Linked DNA regions of Homo sapiens: region 1 is linked to region 2. The links come from fine-mapping of genetic effects on gene expression. Tissue or cell type: fibroblasts. Region 2 holds a variant in brackets; the other region holds the start of a gene. All regions are shown on one strand. Distances are between the middles of the regions.

Evidence for each region. PIP is the estimated chance that this variant, and not a neighbour inherited with it, causes the effect.
Region 1: it holds the start of CFAP251, and the variant in region 2 is fine-mapped to the expression of CFAP251 in fibroblasts (GTEx, PIP above 0.99).

What each region holds. Positions count from the first base shown.
Region 1 is chr12:121,913,682-121,921,784 of GRCh38, forward strand. It overlaps CFAP251 (cilia and flagella associated protein 251), which reads left to right and starts at 4,911. Exons shown (of 22, transcript NM_144668.6): 1 at 4,911-5,014; 2 at 7,605-8,002. The coding sequence starts at 7,625. It overlaps PSMD9 (proteasome 26S subunit, non-ATPase 9), which reads left to right. Exons shown (of 6, transcript NM_002813.7): 5 at 2,175-2,263; 6 at 2,603-4,616. The coding sequence ends at 2,630. RefSeq lists a silencer at 5,040-5,189.
Region 2 is chr12:122,007,385-122,015,487 of GRCh38, forward strand. No RefSeq gene overlaps it. Among named protein-coding and RNA genes, the nearest start is that of BCL7A, 10 kb to the right of the region's middle. The variant G/A (reference allele first, on the strand shown) is at 4,988.

The DNA of each region.
Region 1 (8,103 bases), 94 kb before region 2:
TAAAGACGAGATCTCTCTTTGTTGCCGGGCTGGTCTTGAACTTTTGAGCTGAGGCAGTCCTCCTGCCTGGGCCTCTGAATGTGTTGGGATTACAGGCATGAGCCACCGTACCCAGCATGTATGTATTTTCTCCTATCATGTGGGTTGCCTTTTCACTCTGTTAATAGTGTCATTTGATACATAGAAGTTTTAGATTTTGATGGCATCTTGTTTTATTTATTTATTTTTATTTTTTTGAGACAGGGTCTCACTCTGTTGCCCAGGCTGGAGTGCAGTGGTGCAGTCACAGCTCACTGCAGCCTTGACCTCCCTTGAGCAATCCTCCTGCCTCAGCCTCCCGAGTAGCTGGGACTATAGGTGCACACCACCATGCCTCGCTAATTTTTATACTTTTTGTAGAGTCAGGGTTTCACCATGCCCAGCCTGGTCTTCAACTCCTGGGCTCAAGTGATCTTCCTGCCTCCCAAAGTGCTGGGATTACTGGCGTGAGCCACCGTGCCTGGATATCGTATTTTAATTTGTAATTTTTTTGGTATGTACTCCCCCTGCTTTAATTTTAATTTTTTAAATTAAAGTACTATATACAGGCTGGGTGTGGTGGCTCATGCCTGTAATCCCAGCACTTTGGGAGGCTGAGGTGGGTGGATCACCTGAGATCAGGAGTTCAAGACCAGCCTGGCCAACATGGCGAAACCCCATCTCTATTAAAAATACAAAAATTATCTGGGCATGGTGGCACGTGCCTGTAATCCCAGTTGCTCAGGAGGCTGAGGCAGGAGAATTGCTTGAACCGGGGAGGCGGAGGTTGCAGTGAGCCGAGATTGTGCCACTGTACTCCAGCCTGCGCGACAGAGAACCCATCTCAAAAAAAAGAAAGTAATACATACATGCCAGGTGTGGTGGCACATGCCCAAAATCCCAGCACTTTGGGATGCTGAGGTGGGCAGATCACTTGAGCCCAGGAGTTTGAGACCAGGCTGGCCAGTATGGTGAAACCCTGTCTCTACTAAATATACAGAAACATTAGCTGAGCATGGTGCTGCATGCCTGTAGTCCCAGCTACTCAGGAGGCTGAGGCACGAGAATTGCTTGAACCTAGGAGGCTGAGGTTGCGGTGAGCTGAGATTGCACCACTACACTCCAGCCTGGGCAACAGAGCAAGACTCTGTCTCAGAAAAATAAAGCAATACATACGCATGGTTAAAAAATTAATGATATGGAAATATATAAAAGTAAACATCTTCTTTTTCCAAAGGACTAGTCCTCTCTGGAAGTAACCACTCTTAACAAGTTTTTCCATGTTCTTCCAGAAAACTTCGCACACTAGAGCAACACAGGTGTCCTTTTAGAAAATATTATCGGCCGGGCACGGTGGCTCACACCTGTAATCCCAGCACTTTGGGAGGCTGAGGTGGGTGGATCACCTGAGATCAGGAGTTCTGAGACCAGCCTGGCCAACATGGCGAAACCCTGTCTCTACTAAAAATACTAAAATTAGGCGGGTGTGGTGGCGGGCACCTGTAGTCCCAGCTACTCAGGAGGCTGGGGCATGAGAATTGCTAGAACCTGGGAAGCAGAGGTTGCAGTGAGCCAAGATTGTGCCACTGCACTCCAGCCTGGGTGACAGAGTGAGACTGTGTCTCAAAAAAAAAAAAAAAGAAAGAAAATATTATCAAATAGGTTCATACTTTGGTGGGGTTTTGGTTTGTTTTGACTAAAACCCTTCATTCTCTGTACTGTATTTGAACAATACCTATTGATGGACATTTCTGGTGTTTTCAGTTTTTGAATTTCTACACAGTCCTGGAATGAACATTTCATTTGTATGTCTCGCTAATTTTTATACTTTTTGTAGAGTGCTGGGATTACAGGCATTTGTATGTCTTGTAATTTGTATGTCATCTTGCAATTGTGTACTATGTACCTTGGATGTACCTTTTAAAGATCGTTGGTGGTGGGACACGTGTTTTTTGAGGAAGATGGTACTGAGGTCAGCACCCTGGCTGCCCTGAGAGTGCAGTGCCACGTTCCCCACCCTCTCGCCAACCACAGGATTATGCTGCAAATGTAAATCTTTACCAATTTGATAGGCAAAAAATGGGATCTCAGCATTTTAGCCTGCATCTCTGAGTACTAACGAGGCTGAACACGAAATGAGCTTATTTTCTTTTCAGAAGCCCCTGAATGTGACAGTGATCCGCAGGGGGGAAAAACACCAGCTTAGACTTGTTCCAACACGCTGGGCAGGAAAAGGACTGCTGGGGTAAAGTATCTGTTTCTGTTCATTCTCACTGGGGCATCATTTGAGTGTTTGTTAAACATGAAGCTGGAGGGGAAGGCTGGGGAGACATTGGGGAATAATGGGAATCCCCAGTTTGCATGGAAACTGCAGATAAATCCTCGTGGTAGGAACGAGACTACAGCTCTAGAAGCAGAGGGAGCCCCAGAGTCTCTCCTGGGAGTCTCTCCAGTTCATTCATGCACTAGGCATTTGCTTTAAAAGAATGAAAGAACATTGGTGAAAAGGTCAGAAGGGCTCAGCCTCTGACCTTCCTGAAGGGAGCCTCCAAACTTACGCCATTCCTTTTCTTCTTTCTTCCAGCTGCAACATTATTCCTCTGCAAAGATGATTGTCCCTGGGGAACAGTAACAGGAAAGCATCTTCCCTTGCCCTGGACTTGGGTCTAGGGATTTCCAACTTGTCTTCTCTCCCTGAAGCATAAGGATCTGGAAGAGGCTTGTAACCTGAACTTCTGTGTGGTGGCAGTACTGTGGCCCACCAGTGTAATCTCCCTGGATTAAGGCATTCTTAAAAACTTAGGCTTGGCCTCTTTCACAAATTAGGCCACGGCCCTAAATAGGAATTCCCTGGATTGTGGGCAAGTGGGCGGAAGTTATTCTGGCAGGTACTGGTGTGATTATTATTATTATTTTTAATAAAGAGTTTTACAGTGCTGATATGACCCTGTTGTCACCCCAGCTGAATTTCTTATGACCCTCCCAAACCAAAGCTCAGATGGGGTCAGAAGAGCTTCATAGAAAGTTGGGCAAAACAGGCTAGCAATTGCAAAGTCAGGCTTTGACCAACATATTTCTTTGCACTGAGGCCTTGCTGCTGTGGATACGGAAATGGTTAAGTACTGTGCTTCCTCAGCAGCTGGGCTGTCAGGGCCATAGTAGCTCCCTTTGGAGAACAGGGAAAGCCTGGAGGCTTCCCAGGTGGCCCAGCGTGGTGTCCTGTCAGCTTCCTCTTTAGGAACCCACCAGAGGGCAGCAAGCTCCTTTCACTTCGCTAGTAAGAACCCCTCCGTTTTTGTGTGTTTTTGTTTTTGTTTTCTGGAGACAAGGTCTTGCTTTGTCACCCAGGCTGGAGTGCAGTGTCGTGATCAAGGTTCACTGAAGCCTTGACGCTGTGGGCACTGCCTCAGCCGCCCAAGTATCTGGGACCACAGGCGTGCACCACCATGCATAGCTAATTTATTTTTTGTAGAGACAGGGTCTCCCTGTGTTGACCAGGTTGGTCTCGAACTCCTGGGCTCAAGCAGTCCTCCTGCCTTGGCCTCCTAAAGTGCTGGGATCACAGGCGTGAGCCACTGCGCCCAGCCCACTGCTAGTTTGACTTTTTATAATTGAACCTCCTGGCTATGCCCTGAGATCAGCGCTATTTTGTAAACCGCTGAGGTATGGATAGGAACGAGTAGATCAGACCTCTTGAAAATGCTTATTCTTCCTCCCTTTTATTTTTTGTCTCTTTTAAGATGGTAAAATGGTTCTCAGGGATTCCTGCCAATACTTTGAATTATTTTTTCCTCTCCATGGTATCAGTGTTCATTTCCCCAGTTCTTGCACACCGCTTTCTGTTTTGGCAGTTCTGCCAGGCAAGCCCTGTGTTCCTTGGGACTGGTTTTGCTGTGGTTGGATACAGATACCAGCTTGCCTTGATGGGATTGGTATTGCTGTGTGCTTCCAGCCACAGGTTCTCACACTCAATTCCAAAGCCTTCCTATTGGGCGAATTCCCTCAAACTCTATTTGACCTGACAGCCATACGTATTCCCCTCTGGTAGCCACAGACATGCTGTGTTTACCAATGTTTGCTGTTTAAATTGCATGTTCTAATTCCACGTATTTTCCAGTCTCTTTTATAAAGTCTCAGACTATAATAAACACAGCTTGCCCAGTTTATCCTTTCTTTTTTATTTTAAGATGTATGCATATTAATCAATTTACCATCACTGGGGCATGGCAGTGTGGGCGGGGAGAATTATTCACATTCTCCTAAAATGACAGCAGCAGAGAGCCTTCTGCCTCAGTGGCTCTGGCTGGTTTCCTGCAGGGGTCCCAGTGGAAACCCGTGTGGCCACCTGTTGCCGTCTTCCATGAGATGTTAGTGGAGAGCCACTTTGACGTGGAATGATCCTAATAGATATAGCCAGACCGGTTTTGCGGAAACGCTTTGTGCTGAGAACCGCAAGCTGGTGCACCCTGTGTCATATCTGCCCCCAGCCAGCTGGAATTGTCTGCAACACGCGGTGCCCGGTGAGGAGGCAGGCAGGACGGTTGTGTGCTGCATCCATGAGACCTGGAAATTCAGTTTGCTTTTGGAAAAGAGCATTGTATCCGAGTTCATACTTCTCCACCCCATCTTGCCAAGGTTGCGGAAAGTAAAAATTGGCAGTATTGGCCGCTGCAGCTTCTTAGGGGACGGGACCATGTGAAAAGGTGGGATCGTGCGAGCGGAGGAAGGACAGAAAAGCGAGGAAAGTCTATGCCGCCAGCGACCGGCAGGAGGCACGTCGGGCACGCTCGTCACCGTTTCCTGGCACGTGACCACCGCCCTGCCCTGTCGCTTTAGGGCCTGTCGCTTCCGGCGGTGGCGGTTGCCATGGGGACGGAGCTTGGGTGGCAACCAGAACTAGGGAGCTGGTGGAGAAGGTGGCGGCCGCTGGAAGGAGGCCCGGGAGGTGGCTGAGGGGTCCAGGCGGCGGGACGACTCTGGCCTTTTGAAGACCGGGGTGGGTGCTCTCTGTAAGTCCGGGGCGGAGGCCACGCGGCCCTGGCGAGGGGGCCCCCGACCTGGCGGGGTCTGGTGCCCCTTGGGGGGCGCTCACCCGACCTGGCCCTTGTGGGGCCTGGGGCGGCCCCAGGGAGACCTGAGTTGGAGGCAGAGGCCGCACCTGGGCTTTAATCCCCTCGCAGAGCCACGCACCTGGCACCCCTGCCCCAAACCCCTGCGGCTCGAACCCGGCTGTCCAGACGCGCCGGCGAAGTTGGGCTCAGTCAAAAGAGGCTCGGTGGTGAGAGCCCTAGACTTGATTCAGAGCAGTGATTTTTCAGCTGGAGAAACTAAGTGCCAGAGAAATCTCGTTCTTACTAGCGGTGTCATCTTGAATAAGTCACTTCACCTCTCAGAGCCTCAAACTCATTTATCCATTCATTATTTATTTATTATTATTATTATTATTTTTTTTTTACCAGAGATGAATTTGAGGAGCTGATACATTTAGTGCTGAGAAAGAAATTAAGAAATAGAAATACCTTTTCTACTCTGTACTCTCTGGGACTTTATTTTCAAAGTGTTGAGTTCTCTTATTCTAATGTCACTGAAAATGTAGGGATTTTTTTTGTTCGGGGTCCAACTCTTTAGGGATAAAGTATCCATCCTTATTGTTTTCCTAGTTCAAACTCTTGTTTGTTGTAAGGAATAAATGGAGAATATGCCAGAAGGCTTTCAAACTGTTCATTTCTTTGCACATTAGGGTTGCTTTTCTCTCAAATAATAACAACTGCTACCATTTTTTCAAGCTGTATGTGCCAGAATTGTGATGAGCATTTTATATATGTTATCACTTCTCTACAACAACCCTAGAATTTAGGATTATTCTTTTCATTTTGCCCATGAGAAAATGCAGACTCTGAGGGGTAAAGTGACTTGCCCAAGGTCACAGAGCAAGTACGTGGTGGAAATGGGATTCAATGCTAGGACAAGCTGACAGCAAGGCCCTTGCTTTTAACCACTAGGCTACCCTGCTTCTTCTCGTATTCCTGTTTCTAGAATTGTTGCTAATATGTGGGTTATGCATTTTGCTGCCTGTGGGAATATAAATATATTTTAAATGAGTAAAAAGGCTACAAGGTGTTTATTCCCAGAAAGTTGACAGGCCCTGGATCAGTATTTTTAAGATCTGGGCCACAAATACATATACTTTAAGATTTCCCAGCTGCGCGTGATGGCTCACGCCTGTAATCCCAGCACTTTGGGAAGCCAAGGCGGGCGGATCACTTGAGGTCAGGAGTTTAAGACCAGACTGGCCAAAATGGTGAAACCCTGCCTCCATTGAAAAAATACAAAAATTAGCTGGGTGTGGTGGCAGACGCCTGTAATCCCAGCTGCTCGGGAGGCTGAGGCAGGAGAATAGCTTGAACCCTGGAGGCAGTAATTGCAGTGAGCCAAGATCGTGCCACTGCACTCCAGCCTGGGCAACAAGAACAAAACTCTGTCTCAAGAGAAAAAAAAAAAAAAGGTTTCCCACAAATGTGACTTTTTTTTTTTTTTTTTTTTTTTGAGAGAGGGTCTCGCTCTGTTGCCCAGGCTGGACTGCAGTGGCATGATCTTGGCTCGCTGCAACCTCCGCCTCCCAGATTCAAGCTATTCTCCTGCCTCGGCCTTCTGAGTAGCTCAGATTACAGGCACCACCACCACACCAGGCTTTTTGTATTTTTTTTTTTTTTTTGAGACGGAGTCTCGCTGTGTTGCCCAGGCTGGAGTGCAGTGGCACGATCTCGGCTCACTGCAAGCTCCGCCTCCCGGGTTCACACCATTCTCCTGCCTCAGCCTCCCGAGTAGCTGGGACTACAGGCGCCCACCGCCAAGCCCGGCTAATTTTTTGTATTTTTAGTAGAGACGGGGTTTCACCGTGTTAGCCAGGATGGTCTCGATCTCCTGACCTCGTGATCCACCCGCGTCAGCCTCCCAAAGTGCTGGGATTACAGGCGTGAGCCACCACGCCCGGCCAACTTTTTGTATTTTTAGTAGAGATGGGGTTTCACCATGTTGGCCAGGCTGGTCTCAAACTCCTGACCTCAACTGATCCTCCCGCCTCAGCCTCCCAAAGTGTTGGGATTACAGGCGTGAGCCACTGTGCCTGGCCAGAAATATGACATTCTTTTTTTGTTTTTATTTTTGAGACAGAACTTTGCTCTTGTTACCCAGGCTGGAGTGCAATGGTATGATCTTGGCTCACTGCAACCTCTGCCTCCCAGGTTCAAGCGATTCTCCTGCCTCAGCCTCCCAAGTAGCTGGGATTACAGGCGCCTGCCACCACACCCAGCTAATTTTTGTATTTTTAGTAGAAACGGGGTTTCATCATGTTGGCCAGGCTGGTCTCAAACTCCTGACCTCAGGTGATCCATCTGCATTGGCCTCCCATAGTGCTGGGATTACAGGCATGAGCCACCGTGCCTGGTCAGAAACATGACATTCTTTTTATTCCTATGGAAAGGGAACAGAGCCATTTATGCACATTTCATCAGTAGGTTAGTGCACTAGGAGATGGAAATGGGAAGCTGAGGGCCAGCTGGTTATTATGGTCAAAATCTCTCTAGAGGAAACTCTACAGAGAAGAATGTCAGATGCAGCAGAAGCTCCCCGAGAAGCAACAGGAGAAAATGGAGAAACAGAAATGAAAGAAGAGGAGGAACCTAATCCAAATTATAAAGAAGTAGAAGATCCACAACAGGAATCAAAAGATGACACAATAGCATGGAGAGAGTCTCAGGAGGAGGAGAGGAAAACGGGCGAGGAGGAAGGGGAGGAGGAGGGGAAGGAGGACAAAAAGATTGTCATGGAAGAAACTGAGGAAAAGGCTGGAGAAGTCCAAGAGAAGGAGGCTTCAGGAATACAGGAAGAAACCACAGTAGAGCCCCAAGAAGTCACAGCGTCCATGATCCGTTTGGAGACACAGATTACTGATTCCCAGTCAATCACATCAGGAATTTTCCCAGTAAGTAGTCATCTTAATTCATTCATCAATTCATTCAGAATCATTAGTTGAATGCTTAGTATAGGCCAGACTATGGGAACACAAAACCAAATAAGGTACAA
Region 2 (8,103 bases):
GTCCTTATAGGGCCCTCATCAGGCTGGGCAAACCTCCCCTGTCAAGGGCCAGGGAGTAAATATTGAGGCTCTTGGGGCCAAAGGGCCTCCGTAGTGACTTCCCAATCCTGCCATTGTAGTGCAAAAGCCCCCAGGGACAACACAGAAAAGAATGCCCGTGGCTGCCTCCCAGCCCCACTTCACCTATGGACACTGACATTTGGATTTCATGATAATTTCCACATATCATGGACTATTATTTGTCTTTTGTTTTTTTTTCAACCATTTAAAAATGTGAAACCCATTCTTAGCTCGGAGACCTGCAAACACAGGCAGCAGCCTAGATTTGTCCCACAGGGTGTAGCTCACCACCCCCGACTCTGCCTCGTAGGCCAAGGGTACTCATTCCAGCAGATTTCCACAAATACTACAAATCTGTACCAAACACCTGACCGGCACTCTTCAAAAAATGTCAAAGTCATGACAGACAAGGAAAGATGGAGAAACTCTCACAGACCAGAAGAGACGGAACCATGACAACTAAATGCAGTGTGGACACCTGGATCCGTTCCTGAAACAGAAAAAGGACATCAGTGGAAAAACTGGTGAAATCCAGCTAAAGTCTGTGGTTTAGTTAACAGTGTTGCACCAATATTAATTTCTGAGTTTTGGGCGGTGCGCAGTGGCTTACACCTGTAATCCCAGCACTTTGGGCAGCCGAGCTGGGAGGATCACTTGAGCCCAGGAGTTCAAAATCTGCCTGGGCAACATAGGGAGACCCCGTCTCTACAAAACATTTTTTTAAAATTAGCTGGACATGGTGGAGCATGCCTGTGGTCTCAGCTAGTCAGGAGGCTGAGGCCAGAGGATCACTTGAGCCTGGGAGGTTGAGGCCGTAGTGAGCCGTGATCGTGCCACTGCACTCCAGCCTGGGTGACAGAGTGAGATCCTATCTCAAAACAAAATTTCTGAGTTTTGCTCAGTGTATCACAGTTGTGTAAGATGTTCACATTAGGGAAACTGGGTGAAGGGTCTAGGGATCATGGCACTATCTTGGCAAGCCTAAAATTATTTCAACATAAAGTTTTTATTTATTTTTATTTTTATTTTTATTTTTTGAGATGGAGTCTCGCTCTGTCACCTAGGCTGGAGTGCAGTGGCGTGATCTTGGCTCACTGCAACCTCCGCCTCCCGGGTTCTTGCCATTCTCCTGCCTCAGCCAGCTGGGACTACAGACGCCTGCCACTATGCCCGGCTAATTTTTTATATTTTTAGTAGAGATGGGGTTTCACCATGTTAGCCAGGATGGTCTCGATCTCTTGACCTCATGATCCGCCAGCTTCGGCCTCCCAAAGTGCTGGGATTACAGGCGTGAGCCACCGCGCCCGGCCATAAAGTTTTTAAAAAATGAAATCTGTACCACCTTTCTGACTCAGTCACCCCTGAATTATTTCCACTATCTGCTCTGTGCTTTCAATTCTTGAGCAGATTCTCCTGCCGGCGCCACAGCACCTGGTCCCCTCACTGGCTGCCTGGCCTGTGCAGACCTGGCCTTCTGCTGTGCTTCGAGGTGATGCAAACAAAAAGGTCTTTTTTTAAACATCTGTGTCCTCAAGCTGTGGCTGCCTGAGACACTGGTGTTTTCGGCTTGAGCATGTTCTTTAGGGATTTGGCCAGCAGTTCCCTTGCGGGCAGCTATTTCCAAATTGACTGTAATAAATAGATGCCAGGCGCTGGGAGTTGACAGTAGTTGCCACCCTGCTCATATGTCATGTAACCGCCCTCTGCTAGCTTAGCTGGAAGGAATATTAAAAAAAAAAAAAGAAAAGCCGGTTGATCCAACACTGTTCAGCGGCAGCGAGATGCTGACTGGTGGGACAGTGAGCTGCGGGTCTCGGTGCCCCGAAGCTGGTGTTCTCCCGAGTGCACTGATGCCAAGGCGGACTCACATTTATCAGTGCCCAGGCGTGAGGCATCAGCCCCAGGAAAGTCGTCCAGCACTGGCATCACTGCCCTCCCTGAGAGTGTGAAATTGCAAGTGATGCCGTGAGGCAAGGGTGGGGGCGTCAATACTGAAGCTGCCCCGCCTCAAAAGGGCTTGGACCATGGCTGGGCACGGTGGCTCACGCCTGTAATCCCAGCACTTTGGGAGGCCGAGGCGGGCGGATCACGAGGTCAGGAGATCGAGCCCATCCTAGCCAACACGGTGAAACCCCATCTCTACTAAAAAAAAAAAAAATACAAAAAATTTAGCAGGGCGTGGTAGCAGGCACCTGTAGTCCCAGCTACTCGGGAGGCTGAGGCAGGAGAATGGCATCAACCTGAGAGGCGGAGCTTGCAGTGAGCCGAGATCGCGCCACTGCACTCCAGCCTGGGCGACAGAGCGAGACTCTGTCTCAAAAAACAAAAACAACAAAAAAAGGGCTCGGACCATCGTCTGAGGCCCCCTCCCCATGTCCTCTTGTTGTTTTGATTGGAAGTCATAAAACACATCAGTGTAAATATAGTATTTATTTTTGCATATCTTTTTAAAGCTGCATATCTTTAAAGCTGGTGGAGTTTTTTGAGGGGAGCAAGTTTCATGACCACAGCAAGGGCAGGCTCCAGTGAGCACTTCACGCCACCTGGATGTGCTGCAGACTGCACCACCCCCAGCCCACCGGCCAGACTGGCTGCCCTGGAGAAGGCTTAGTGGGTAGTCCCCTGGGCCTGGACCACGGCTGTCCCTGCACCCGCGAGGGGATGGGGGGAGTGGGGCACATGCCTCCTGGATGCGAGGGTGGCTGCCGTCCCCCCTCCCCTGGAAGCATCTCATTTCTTCCTTTATAATCTGAGCGAGATGGGGCTGGAAGAAGTGGCTGTAGCCCCAGCACTTTAGGAGGCCAAAGTGGGCAGATCACCTGAAGTCAGAAGTTTGAGATCAGCCTGACCAACATGGCAAAACCCCGTCTCTATTAAAAATACAAAAATTAGCCGGTTGTGGTGGCGCGCTCCTGTAATCCCAGCTACTTGGGAGGCTGAGACAGGTTAATCGCTTGAACCTGGGAAGCAAAGATTGCAGTGAGCCGAGATGGCGCCACTGCACTCCAGCCTGGGTGACAGAGCCAGACTTCATCTAAAAAGAAGAAAAAAAAAACCTGAGAGAGATGGACTTCATTTATTACCCACTCACGAATTCAACAAACGCTGACTGTGTGCTGGGCCCTGTGTGAGGGCTGCCTATCTGGAGTGAACAAGAGAGTGGCTGTTGTCTTTAGGGGGCTCATGTTAAACAAACACATTAATGTAAACTTGCAAACGGTGCTCAGAGCTACGAGGGAAAAGCCCGGCCCCTGTGAGAGGGAATCCCTAGAGGGGGGCAGGTTTAGATGAAGTGGTCAGAGAGGGGAGAATGTTCCAGAGGGAGCCAAGTGAGCCAAAGCTGGGAGCTGCGGAAGAGCCAGATGCATTCAGTGAACCAAAGCTTTCCATGGTCAACCCTGGGGAATGCTGCAGGCTCAAGACAAGGCATCTAGAATGACCTCTAGTGTTCCTTTACCACTGCCAGTGTATGATTCTTCCTCATGAGCCTGAGTAGGAATGTTTCATATGGGAAGTGGGTAGGTGGCGGGGTGCAGCAGCTCACACCTGTAATCCCAGCACTTTGGGAGGCTGAGGTGGGAAGATTGCTCGAAGCCAGGAGTTCAATACCAGCCTGGGCAACACAGCAAGACCCCGACTCTATTAAATTTAAAAAGGAAAAAATGAAGTGGGTAGGAAGAATGGAGGCTGGTCAAGTGTTCCAAGTGGAAGATCTGGCCACTTCTCATTTCTTCATATTCCAGGGTCCTGATGTGGGATAGGCGGTCACTCAGAGGGTCCCAGGAAAGACTAGCCCCAAAGTCAGTGTGTTCCTTCCTATGACACCAGCCACAGATTGAATGGCTCACAGTGGGTTTCAGCCCCACCTACTTTAAGTCCTTAAGTTGGCACTTTTTCATCCTTTTGAGATTTCCAGGGATTTCAAGTTTTTAAAAATGAAATCAGCTGGGCAACATGGCTCATGCCTGTAATCCCAACACTTTGGGAGGTCAAGGCAGGAGGATCGTTTTGGCCTAGGAGTTTGAGACCAGCCTGGGCAATATGGTGAAACCCCATTTTTATTAAAAATACAAAATTTAGGCTAGGCCCAGTGGATCACACCTGTAATCCCAGCACTTTGGGAGGTCAAGGTGGGCGGATCACCTGAGGTCAGAAGTTTGAGACCAGCCTGGCCAACATGGTGAAACCCCATCTTTACTAAAAATACAAAAATTAGCAGGACATGTTAGCACGCACCTGTAATCCCAGCTACTCAAGCAGCTGAGGCAGGAGAATTGCTTGAACTCAGGAGGTGGAGGTTGGTGAGCCAAGATTGTGCCACTGCACTCCAGCCTGGGGGACAGAGCAAGACTCCATCTCAAAAAAATAAATAAATAAAAACAAAATTTAGCTGGGCATGGTGGCACAAGGCTGTGGTCCCAGCTACTCCAGAGGCTGAGGTGGGAGGATCACTTCAGCCTGGAGAAGTTGAGGTGCAGTGAGCTGTTTTGCACCCCTGCACTTCAGCCTGGGCAGCAGAGTGAGACTCTGTCTCAAAGAAGGAGAAGGAGAGAGGGACAGCTTCAATTTGGTGTCAATCATGATCTTTGGTTTGCAGTAATAGAAATTGACTCTGCTTAGCTTAAGTGGAAAAGGACTTGATTTCAAAGCTACCAGGCAACTCACAGAATCAATGGAGACACTGGAGAAGCAAGCCCTGGAGATGAGTGGGAACCAAAGGATGCCAGGACGTCCCAGTGGTGCTGCCACCCCTGAGCACTTGATCCTCCAATCTCGTTAAGATTTCCAATGGCCACGTCTGCTGTGAGTCATTTCTCCATTGTCCCTACCTTCCTCAAACCTCAAAGTCAAAATCAATCCCACAGTAAGATCCCGCTTGACCTCCACTAGGATAGCTAAAAATTTAAAAAGACAATAACAAGTGCTG[G/A]CGAGGATGCGGAGCAGTTGCCACATTGCCGGTGGAAGTGTAAAAGGGTGCAGCTGCTTTGGAAAGTAGCTTGGCAGTTCCTCAAAATGTTAAATATAGAATTACCATATGACCCAGCAATTCCCTTCCTAGGTATGTGGCCAAGAGAAGGGAAAATATACATCCACACATAAAGACCATTATGTACATTAGTGTTCACAGCAACATGAATCATAGTAGCTAAAAGGTAAGGTAAGACCAGGCACGATGGCTCATGCCACAGATCACAGATCCCAGCACTTTGGGATGCGAGGGTGGGAGAATTACTTGAATCCAGTAGTTCGAAACTTTGAGACCAGCCTGGGCAAGTGAGACCTCATCTCTTGAAAAAAACAAAACAAAACAAAACAAAACAAAACCAAGGCAGGGCATGGTGGCTCACGCCCGTAATCCCAGCACTTTGGGAGGCAGAGGCAGGTGGATCACCTAAGATCAGGTGTTTGAGACCAGCCCGGCCAACATGGTGAAACCCCATCTCTACTAAAAATACAAAAATTAGCTGGGCATGGTGGCTCGTGCCTGTAATCCCAGATACTTGGAAGGCTGAGGCATGAGAATGGCTTGAACTCGGGAGGCGGAGGTTTCAGTGAGTTGAGATCATGCCATTGCACTCCAGCCTGGGCGACAGAGCGAGACTCCATCTCAAAAAAAAAAAAAAAAGAAAAACAAAAGGTAGAAACAACCCCATAACCATCAACAAAAGAATGAAAAAACAAATTGTGGTATATCTATACAGTGGAATATTATTTAGCTATAAGAAGAAATTATGTATTAATGCATGCTACCGGATAGATGATCTTTGAGAACATGCTGAGCAAAAGAAGCCAGACCTAAAAGGCCACATATTGTATGACTCAATTCATGTGAAACATCCTTAATTTACGTGAAACCATATAGACTAGTGGTTACCAGGGACCGTGGGGAGGGGACAGAGAGTGACTGTTTAATGTGACTGTTTAATGGGTACAGGGTTTCTTTTATGGATGATGAAATGTTCTAAAATTGATTGTGGTGACAGTTGCACAACTCCGTGAATATACTAAAACCCACTGAATTATACACTTTAAAAGGGTGAATTTTATGCTGCATGAATTATATCTTAATAGAACCATTATTTTAAAAAATCAACCGGCTAGACCATCCACCATCCACACCTAAGGTTGGAACCCATTCCCAGGACTTAACTGGGCCCCCAGTGAAGAGAGAGACAGACCCCCTTTAGCTCCGGTAGCGGGGTGGGGAGGGGCTGCCTCCACCCACAAAGGCTCACCCAGAACTAGGAGGGTGTTCAGATGCTGAACAGGTGGAATCACTCCACATGTGGAGAGTACAGGGGAAGAAGTCTGGGCAGCCTTCTAGATCCCTGACCTAAGAATGTACCGAGCCTGTGTGTAGAAGGATCCCAACTTTATTCCAAGCCACTGGGTCATCCAGACTTTCTGCATTTAGAAAATGCTAATAATTTGGGACCTCACTGAGTTCCACCAGCTGCGTGTTGCTGAATGCTTATCAACCAGCTCTGGGTGGGGAAGAGGGGAGGGGCCTGACGTATAGCACTTGCCAATTTCCATAGTGTAAATATTCCCATTAGAGCTGATTTCAAACTATCAGCATTATGACATGTGTGGAGTCCGGAAGCCCCGGTTCCCCAATCGGGAGAGCTGAGTTCTGGCCACAACTCTGCTAAGTGGCTGGGCAGCTATTGAATTGTAGCTTTCTTTTCTGTAAAAGGAGGGAGGTGGCCTTGATGGTCTTTGTCGTGCTTTGCTTCATCGCCTTTCTGTTCCTGTGTCAGAGGAATGGAGTATATTTCATTCTGTGGTTGGAGCTTTCTCCTTAAAGCTTTGCCTCTTTGCTAGGCCTGGCTAATGACCTGCTCCCTAAACACCAGAGCACCTCTGTTTATGAAACCACAGGCTGCTGCTGCCGCTGCAAGTTGCTAGGCTGCAGAGACTCACCGAGGCTGGGCCTGCACGCGCCTCACAATTACACATCTCTGTTCCAGAGATGGAAACCTCCTCCACCCCGCAGTGGTGAACGAGCCTCCACCCCGCAGTGGTGAACGAGCCTCCACCCCGGAGGAACAGCAGCAGGAGTGGATGGAGACTTGAATTTAGAAAGCAGGGAAAGGGGAATCGTTTGACTTCAGTCCCTAGCGAGGGTCATTACATAGTAATGATGTTTAATCATTATGATGATTATAATGATGACGTGAACAATCGTACAGGTCCTCTAACAAATATAGTCATGTGTCGCTTAACGACGAGGATATGTCCTGAGAAATGCATTGCTGGGCAATTTTTTTCCTGTTTTTTTAAGAGAGTCTCATTCTGTCACTCAGGCTGCAGGGCAGTAGCACGATCACAGCTCACTGCTGCCTTGAACTCCTGGGCTCAAGCGATCCTTCCACCTCAGCTGGCTGAGTAACTGGGACTACAGGGGTGCACCACCACACCTGGCTGATTTTTTTTTCATTTTTTTGTAAAGACTAAGTCTCGCTATGTTGCCCAGACTGGGCTTGAACTCCTGGCCTCAAGTGGTCCTCCCACTTTGGCCTCCAAAGTGCTGGGAGTACAGGTGTGAGCCAGCCATGGTGCCCAGCCCAGACAATTTCATCAGTGTGCAAACATCACGGAGTGTGATTTCACAAACCCAGATGGTGTCACCTACTGTAAACCTAGGCTGTATGGTACAGCCTACTGCTCCTAAGCTACAAACCTGTACGGCCTGGGAATCCTATACTGTACCGTACTGAATTCTGCAGGCAATTGTAACACAAAGGTAAGGGTTTGTGTATCTAAACATTTCTAAGCATAGAAAAGGTACAGCAAAAATACAGTGTAAAACATAAAAAATGGTCCATCTGCACAGGCACTTACCGTGAATGGATCTTGCAGGCTAGAAGTTGCTCTGGGTGAGTCAGTGAGTGGTGAGAGAATGTGAAGACCCAGGACATTACTATCCACTACTATAGGCTTTACAAACATGGTACACTTATGCTGCATTAGATTTATTTTAAAAATACAGTTACAGCCAGGCGCGGTGGCTCATGCCTGTAATCCCAGCACTTTGGGAGG